Linked DNA regions of Homo sapiens: region 1 is linked to region 2. The links come from fine-mapping of genetic effects on gene expression. A gene starts in region 2. The other region holds a variant in brackets. All regions are shown on one strand. Distances are from middle to middle. Region 1 overlaps GNPTAB (N-acetylglucosamine-1-phosphate transferase subunits alpha and beta). Region 2 holds the start of SYCP3 (synaptonemal complex protein 3).

Evidence for each region. PIP is the estimated chance that this variant, and not a neighbour inherited with it, causes the effect.
Region 1: its variant is fine-mapped to the expression of SYCP3 in CD4 T cells (BLUEPRINT, PIP 0.95).

What each region holds. Positions count from the first base shown.
Region 1 is chr12:101,816,272-101,820,671 of GRCh38, reverse strand. All of the region lies in intron 1 of GNPTAB (N-acetylglucosamine-1-phosphate transferase subunits alpha and beta), which reads left to right. Among named protein-coding and RNA genes, the nearest start is that of GNPTAB, 12 kb to the left of the region's middle. The variant AG/G (reference allele first, on the strand shown) is at 2,295.
Region 2 is chr12:101,737,213-101,741,612 of GRCh38, reverse strand. It overlaps SYCP3 (synaptonemal complex protein 3), which reads left to right and starts at 2,151. Exons shown (of 9, transcript NM_001177949.2): 1 at 2,151-2,262; 2 at 3,661-3,810; 3 at 4,315-4,381. The coding sequence starts at 3,678.

The DNA of each region.
Region 1 (4,400 bases), 79 kb before region 2:
TTAGCTAGGTGTGATTTTGCCAAATGTCTAGAAACATTTTTGGTTGATACAGCTGGGGCATGGCATGGGGTTGATGCTACTGGCATTTAGTGGGTAGAAGCCAGGGATCCTGCCAAACATCCTATAGTGCACAGGACAGCCCCTACAACAAAGAATCATCCAGCCCAAAATGTCGATAGTGCTGAAGTTGAGAAATCCGGAATTAGAAGGGGCAAGAATGGCTGCAGGGCAGTTAGTCTACAGGACTGGCCTGGGACTAGGTCAGTGGAAGGACATAGGAAGAGAAATGGACAGATTCAAGAGGCTTAAGAGGCAAAATCCTCCAGTCCTTATGTTCCATTATGTGCTAGGCACTCCACCAACATCTTGGGATACAAAAGTAAGCGAGATAGACAAGTTCATTTGCTCTCGCAGACCCTACTTGTAGTTCTTAAGTGAATATTTGTTGAATGAATACTTATAAGCATCAAAATTTATTTTTGTTGCTGATTGTGACTGAACTTAGGAAGAGTAGTTTAAGTGAGGTGCCTAATGTATGTAAGACATCTTGCGTAGAGGCTGGTCCTAGGCGTTCAGCTAATTAAGTGCCAACTGTCCCATCTCAGGATTGTTTTCCATGTGGCCAGAGTGCTCATGAAGAAAGGACAGGAGACCACCCTGTGAGCTTATGCCTCTTAATCTTTCCTTAAATACAGAACAGGAGAACTCACAGTGATTTCTTGACCTTGGTGTGCTGTGTTATGATTGCTATGAAATCAGAGGGAGCAAGTCCTTTATTTAATATAGCTTGTACTGTATACTAATATATGTAGGCTTCCTATAGTTCCTTCTAAAATATAACAGGTGTAACTATAATAGATTATATATATTCATGATATATCTTTTTAAAATTTCTGCTGTTCTTTAGATTGTTCTCATCTTGCGATACAGATGCAGAATCTTCAGCAGTTGATTAGTCAGCCTATGTGTGATTCGTATGCATACTAAATTACACAGGAAAAAGTGATCTTTCAGAAAGACCAGGTCAGGTCACACTCATTCAGGGAGTGAAACTCATTCTATGATCAGACTAAAAACCATATTGCCCACTTTAAGATTACTTCTCAAAATTGCTTCATTTTTTTAGGATTCTAGTTTTTCTTTTTCCTTTGATAAACCTTTTTCCCCCCCTTCATTTTCTCACTTCATTTCTGTCTCTCATTAATTCCCAATTAGATAAAGCTTCTAAAGCAAATTTTCAGAAGTTGTTCATGTGACAGGCTTATGGAGGTGTTCACTTTGGGCCAGTGTATTAGTCCATTTTCATACTGCTGTGAAGACATACGCGAGACTGGGTAGTTTATAAAGAAAAAGAGGTTTAGGCCAGACATGGTGGCTCATGCCTGTAATCCCAGCACTTTGGGAGGCCGGGGCAGGTGGATCACCTCAGGTCAGGAGTTCAAGACGAGCCTGGCGAACATGGTGAAACCCTGTCTCTACCAAAAATACAAAAATTTGCCAAGTGTGGTGGCGGGCACCTGTAATCCCAGATACTTGGGAGGCTGAGGCAGGAGAATTGCTTGAACCTGGGAGGTGGAGGTTGCAGTAAGCCAAGATCGTGTCATTGCACTCCAGCCTGGGCGACAAGAGCGAGACTCTGTCTCAAAAAAAAAAAAGGAAAAAGAGTTTTAATGTACTTGCAGTTCCACATGGCTGGGGATGCCTTACAATCATGGTGAAAGGGGAAAGAGGAGCAAAGGCACATCTTACATGGCAGCAGGCAAGAGAGCATGTGCAGAGGAACTGCCCTTTATAAAACCATCAGATCTTGTGAGACTTACTCACTATCACAGGAACAGCATGGGAAAAGCCTACTCCCATGATTCGGTTACCTCCCATCAGGTCCCTCCCATGACACATGGGGATTATGGGAGCTACAATTCAAAATGAGATTTGGGTGGGGACACAGGCAAACTATATTAGCCAGGTTGTCTACTGTTGACTAAAGACACAAAGGGCTGGGCACGGTGGCTCAGGCCTATAATCCCAACACTTTGGGAGTCTGAGGTGGGTGGATCACCTGAAGTCAGGAGTTTGAGACCAGCCTGGCAACATGGTGAAACCTCATCTCTACTAAAAATACAAAAATTAGTCGGGTGTGGTGTCAGGTGCCCGTAATCCCAGCTACTTGGGAGGCTGAGGCAGGAGAATCACTTGAATCTGGGAGATGGAGGTTGTGGTGAGCCGAGATCGTGCTACTGGACTCCAGCCTGGGCAACAGAGTAAGACTCTGTCTCCAAAAAAAAAAAAAAAAA[AG/G]ACACAAATATATTTAAGTTGCTTTCTGCTCTGGAGGAACTCATAGTCCAGGCAGGGAGGTGGACAGGCAAGTAGGCAAACTTGAAATGTGTTGTGATGAATGCAGTGCCAAGCACACTTTCTCAGATGGTGTGATACCTGAGCTTGGTCTGGAAGGAGATGGCTGAGTAAAGGAAGGGGAGTGTTTTTGTTTGTTTTGTTTCTTAAGGAAAAGATGCCATTGGTGTAAAGGTATGGATATGAGACATTATTAACTTCTAAGAACAAAAGTAGTTCTAAAGGGCTGCAGCATCTTTGGAGTGACAGGGGAATGAAGCCGAAGAGGCAGGCAGGGGCCAGTTTAGGACTTGCCTGCTGGGTGGTACTAAGGAATGTGAATTCATCCTGAAGAAAATGGGGACCATCAAAGGATTTTAAGGAAGAGAGTGATGAAATAAAATCTGTGCTTAGAACAGTTGCTCTGGAGGTAATGTGGAAGATGAATTGCAGGTGGGGGAAAACGGGCAACAGGAGACGGGGTGAAAATCCCACATCAAGTATAATGCTTCAGAATCCACAAGCTTTTTTGATATTTTTATTTTTTGAGACAGGATCTCGCTATGTTCCCCAGACTGGTCTTGAACTCCTGGGCTCAAGTGATCCTCCCACCTCAGCCTCCCCATAGCTGGGATTGTAGGCATGTGTCACCTTGGCTAGCTATTTAAAAAATTAATTACTTTAATTTTTAATTATTATGGCTATATAATAGTTATGCACATTTATGGAGTACATGTGATATTTTTATACATGCATACAATCTGTAATGATCAGGCTGGGTGCAATGGCTCACACCTGAATCCCAGCACTTTGAGAGGCTTAGGTGGGTGGGTTGCTTGAACTCAGGTGTTCAAGACCAGCCTGGGCAACATGACAAAACCCCATCTCTACAAAAAAATACAAAACTTAGCTAGGTGTGGTAGCACGTGCCTGTAGTCCCAGCTACTCTGGAGGCTGAGGTAGGAGGATCACTGGAGCCCAGGAGATTGAGGCTACATTGAGCCATGATTGTGCCACTGCTCCACCCTGGGTGACAGAGTGAGACCCTGTCTCAAAAAAAAAAAAAAAAAAAAAAGTGGAATGATAAAATCTGGGTAATGGGGATATCCATCATCTCAACCATGTATCATTTCTTTGTGTTGGGAACATTCTAGATCTTCACTTTTAGCTATTTTGAAATATACAATAAATTATTGTTAATTACAGTTGCCCTCTTGTGCTGTCGAACACCAGGACTATCTAACTATTTTTGTACCTATTAGCCAATCACTCTTCATCCCCACTGCCCCCACTACCCTTTCCATCCTCTGGCAACCACCATTCTATTCTCTACCTCCATGAGATCAGTTTTTTAGCTCCCACATATGAGTGAGAAATGTGAATGCAATTTGTTTTTCTGTGCCTGGCTTATTTTACTTCACATCATGTCCTCTGGTTCCATCCATGCGCTGCAAATTACAGGATTTTATTCTTATTTATGGCTGAATAATATCCCATTGTGTGTATAAACCATTTTCTTTATCCATTCATCCATTGATGGACACTTAGCTTGCCTCCAAATCTTGGCCATTGTGAATAGTGCTGAAATAAACATGGGAGTGTAGATAGCTCTTCATTATACGGATTTCCTTTCTTTTGGGTTTATACCCAGTAGTGGGATTGCTAGATCATATAGTCGTTCTATTTTTAGTTTTTTGAGGAATCTTCAAAGTGTTTTCCATAGTGGCTATACTAATTTACATTCCCACTAACAGAGTACAAGCATTGCCTTTTTGCCAAGTCCTTGCTAGCATTTCTTATTTTCTGTCTTTTTGATAATAGCCACTTTGACTAAGGTGAGATGTCTCACTGTGGTTTTAATTACATTTCCCTGATAACTTGTAATGTTGAGCATTTTTAAATATACCTATGGCCACTTACATGTGTCTTCTTTTGAGAAATGTCTATTCTGATATTTTGCCAATATTAAAATCAGATTATTTGGGTTTTTTTATGCCATTGAGTTGTTTGAGTTCCTTATATATTCTGATTATTAAACCCTTGTCAAATGAATAGTTTACAAATAATTT
Region 2 (4,400 bases):
TTGGGAAATTTTTATTACGAATAAAGAAGAAAAATGACAGATGCTCTTCTGTAAGGGTCACTGTAGGAAAAACAACTGAATATGATGATGTAGTGAATGGAACTACTTAATAAGAACAGCATCTATAAGGGTATGGAGGCATAAGAGTGCACAGCACATTTGGGAAAACGCAATGTGGCTGATGCAGTATGAGGCCAAGAATGAGGCTGGCAAGAGAGGAAAAGCAGGATTCCAATTGGGACCAATTGTCAATCATAAAAGCCACCATTTATGGCACATTTATTATGTGGCAGGTACTGTACTAACGCTTTACAAACTTTTTTGAATCCTTTCAGTAATGAAAAATTTACAAGGTTCACTGTATCCTGTATCAACAGGTTTGATGTAGTGAATGGAATTACAGGAACAAGTCTGGGAGTCGTCATCCGTCATTCCTTACCCAATACACTGGTGTATTTAAACGAGCCAGTGGAATGCTGAGCATCATAAGGAAGAGGATTCAAAGCAAAACAGTAAACAGGAGGGTTCCTTTGAATCTCTTACTTGAACTAGGCAGTTGAAAAGTGATTGGCGTCAATAAGATCCTGAAGCCTTTGCCAAATATTAAAGAAGTAAAATATAGGCCAGGCAAGTTGGCTCATGCCTGTAATCCCAGCACTTTGGAAGGCCGAGGTGAGAGGATCATTTGAGCCTAGGAGTTTGAGAACAGCCTGGGCAACATAGTGAGACCCCATCTCGGCAAACTTTTTTTTTTTTTTTTTCTTAATTAGCCAGGCATGGTGGCACGTGCATGAGTCCCAGCTACGCAGGAGGCAGAGACAGGGGGATCATTTGGGCCCAGGAAATCAAGGCTGCAGTGAGCCGTGATCATGCCATGCCACTGCACTTCAGCCTTGGCAAGAGAGCAAAACCCTGTCTCAAAAAAAAAAAAAAAAAAAAAGTAAAATGTATGATTTCAAATAGAAAAAGGATTGCAGAGCTGTGAGCAAACTAAGGCAGGTACAAAGGTTGAAATATATTTTAAAATTATTTGGGGGAAAATACATATAAGCACAGAAAAAAGGATGAAAGGCAATAATACCCCCAATTTTAAACTGTATATTATTTCTGGGTAGTGGGATTATAGGTGAGTTTCATTTCCTTCATAAATTGTATCTTCAAAAATTGTTTTGCAATTGATAGGTGATTTCCAGTTACACCAAATAATTGTTTTACAATTATACTCCCACCCACTGAATGGGTTCCCTTTGTTACATAGATTCATCATCACTCCGTGTAGTCATATTTTGTAGTTTTGCCATTCTAGTGGACTGTCAGAACACTACATAGACTATGGGACAATTTTTTGTAATGCCAAACGCGAACGAAACTAAGCCGTGTTGTTTAACGACACATTTTCATGTGGTAATAAAACTTAGAAAATAAGGAAGGGTGAATGATTTACATAAATTTAGGATAATTTTCTTATATCCCTGAATGGGGAAGGGTGGGGTCCTGGTGAGGATCGGATGGAAAGGCCTGCCTGAGGAGATTCAGTGAATGTTGGTAAAGCCCTACTTCATAAATTAGGTGGTATGTTCATCATGTTTCATAATTTACATATTATTCCGCAATTTTCTTTTTTTTTTTCTTGACATGGAGTCTCACTCTGTTGCCCAGGCTGGAGTACAATGGCATGGTCTTGCTCACTGCAACCTCTGCCTCCCGGGTTCAAGCGATTCTCCTGCCTCAGCTTCCCAAGTAGCTGGGATTACAGGCGCCCGCCACCACGTCCGGCTAATTTTTGTATTTTTAGTAGAGATGGGTTTCGCCATGTTGGACAGGCTGGTCTGGAACTCCTGACCTCAAGTGATCCGTCTGCCTCGGCCTCCCAAAGTGCTGGGATTACAGGTGTGAGCCACTGCGCCTAGCTGCAATTTTCGATTATAAACATTTAAAACTTAAAAACTGGAAGGCACCAGGCCTCAAGTGTACTCGCAACCCGCTCCGGCGGCCAAAGCACCCTGGGCCAGCTATTTGGGCGCGCAATCGCCCCATGGGGGCGGAGCCTCGCCACCCAGTTCACGCCTGCGCTCTGCGTCCAGCCAATCAGCGACGTGTCCGGATGAGGCGGGACTGGCTTTTCTCCTGTGCGAATCCCAGCTTGCCTCAGAAGCGTCGCGGAGAAGGGGCCACCTCAGGTGAAGCGCGCTTGTGGAGGAGTTGTGGAGGACGCCTGTCGACGACCAGTAACTGGTCCTCGGCCATTGCGGTGTGTTTCAGGTGTGAGCAGGGGAGGCGTCTGTCTATCGCAGGTGTCCAGGCCAGAGGCTGCCCTTGACCAGTGAGGTAAATCTTACCTCCTGGCGTCGCCTGGGGCCTCTGACGAGAAAACGGAGGCCGCGAACCTGAGGACAGGGCCTTGAGCAGGATAGGGCCTAGTGGAAAGCGGGCGGGCTGGGCTGGGGCTGGGCCCCATCGCTACACCCTGGGACCACTTACAGGAGGGACGCGGCGGGGCCGGGCAGGGCCCTACCTCGCTCCGCGCGTCTCCCTCCTGCCCGCTCCACGCCGAGGGCGCCTTTCGTGGTTCCTCGATGTATTTGTTGTCGAAATCTTCTGCCTGTGTTCATTTTCCGAGACCTAAATTGCGGGACGTTTTTATTATTTGTCTTGATTATTATGAGCTTATTTCTGGCATCCTCATGTCGTGTCCCGCCAGCAACTATAATTTCCCCGCGTGACTGAGCGCCCTGCTAGAGTTGCCCAGATTTAGCCAGAATCTGGCAGAGGCGGCCCCAAAATTTGGAACTCCCAGGCCTCAGGGGCCACCTCTCCAGCACTGCGCGCTTGGAGTCGGGGTGGACACTGTCATTCTCTCTCATCGATTGATTGATTGAGACGAAGTCTCACTCTGTCGCCCAGGCTGGAGTGCAGTGGGGCCATCTCAGCTCACTGCAACCTCCGCCTCCCGGGTTGAAGCGATTCTTCTGCCTCAGCCTCCTGAGTAACTGAGATCATAGGCACCCGCCACCGCGCCCGGCTAATTTTGTATTTTTAGTAGAGACGGGGTTTCACCATGTTGGCCAGGCTGGTCTCAAACTCCTGACCTCAGGTGATCCACCCACCTCGGCCTCCCAAAGTGATGGGATTACAGGCATGAGCCACAGCGCCCGGCCATTTCTGTTGTTGTTTTTTTTTTTTGAGACGAAGTTTCACTCTTGTCACCCAGGCTGGAGTGCAGTGGCTGCGATCTTGGCTCACTGTGACCTCTGTCTCCCGGGTTCAAGCGATTCTCCTGCCTCAGCCTCCTGAGCAGCTGGGACTACAGGCACGTGCCACCACGCCCGGTTAATTTTGTTTTTTTTTTTCAGTAGAGACGGGGTTTCATCATGTTGGCCAGGCTGGTCTTGAACTCCTGACCTCAGGTGATCTGCCTGCCTCAACCTTCCAAAGTGCTGGGATTTCAGGCGTGAGCTACCGTGCTTGGCCTATTTATTTTATTATTTTTTAACAAATGTCATTATCTTCTTAACTTTTGGCCCCCCAAATAAATGAGGAAACTGTTAAAATTGTATTCAACAATCCTTGTTCGATATCTCCTTTGATATTTAAACTTTTACCAGTGTATTAAAATGATGTCTTTGCATTCAGAAGGTTAAAGAAATTTGTTTTTTAAAGTCAGGAAGCATCTAAATATGGTGTCCTCCGGAAAAAAGTATTCCAGGAAATCTGGGAAGCCGTCTGTGGAAGATCAGTTTACGAGAGCCTATGACTTTGAGACTGAAGATAAGAAAGATCTGAGTGGATCAGAGGAAGATGTTATTGAAGGTGCAGTACATCTCATGTTGGGCAGTGATGTCCTTCAGTTCATTTGTTTTGAACCCATTGAGACTATCGTACAACTTAGTTTGTAAAGCATTTTCAGGTATGGTCTTCCCTCCCCCGGTATTTGTGGTTACAGAACCTGCTGACACGGATGGCCAGCTGTACTTGTGTTTCTCATTTGATCCTTATATTGCAGTATCGGAGTTACAGAAGCTTATTCGGCAACTCTTGCTTTTGCAGTTATTTCCAAAATATCTGATATATAGTATGTGGCTTACTGTGACATTAACCCAGGGAGACTTGAAAAATTATTCCTATAAAATGGTCCTGAATCCTGATTTAATTTCACCTAACCTGCAGAGAATATTGCATTTTTATGTCTGCTTTGAAACTGTATGTTGGCAAAAAGCCTAAAAATCCCCAAATGAAGATGTTTCATTAAAATTTACCAAAATAACCTATTCAGTTTCAAAAGCTTTTTTTTTTTTTTTTTAATTGTCAATACAGGGAAGACTGCAGTCATTGAGAAACGTAGGAAGAAAAGGTCTTCTGCAGGAGTAGTTGAAGATATGGGGTAACGTGTTCAAAATAAT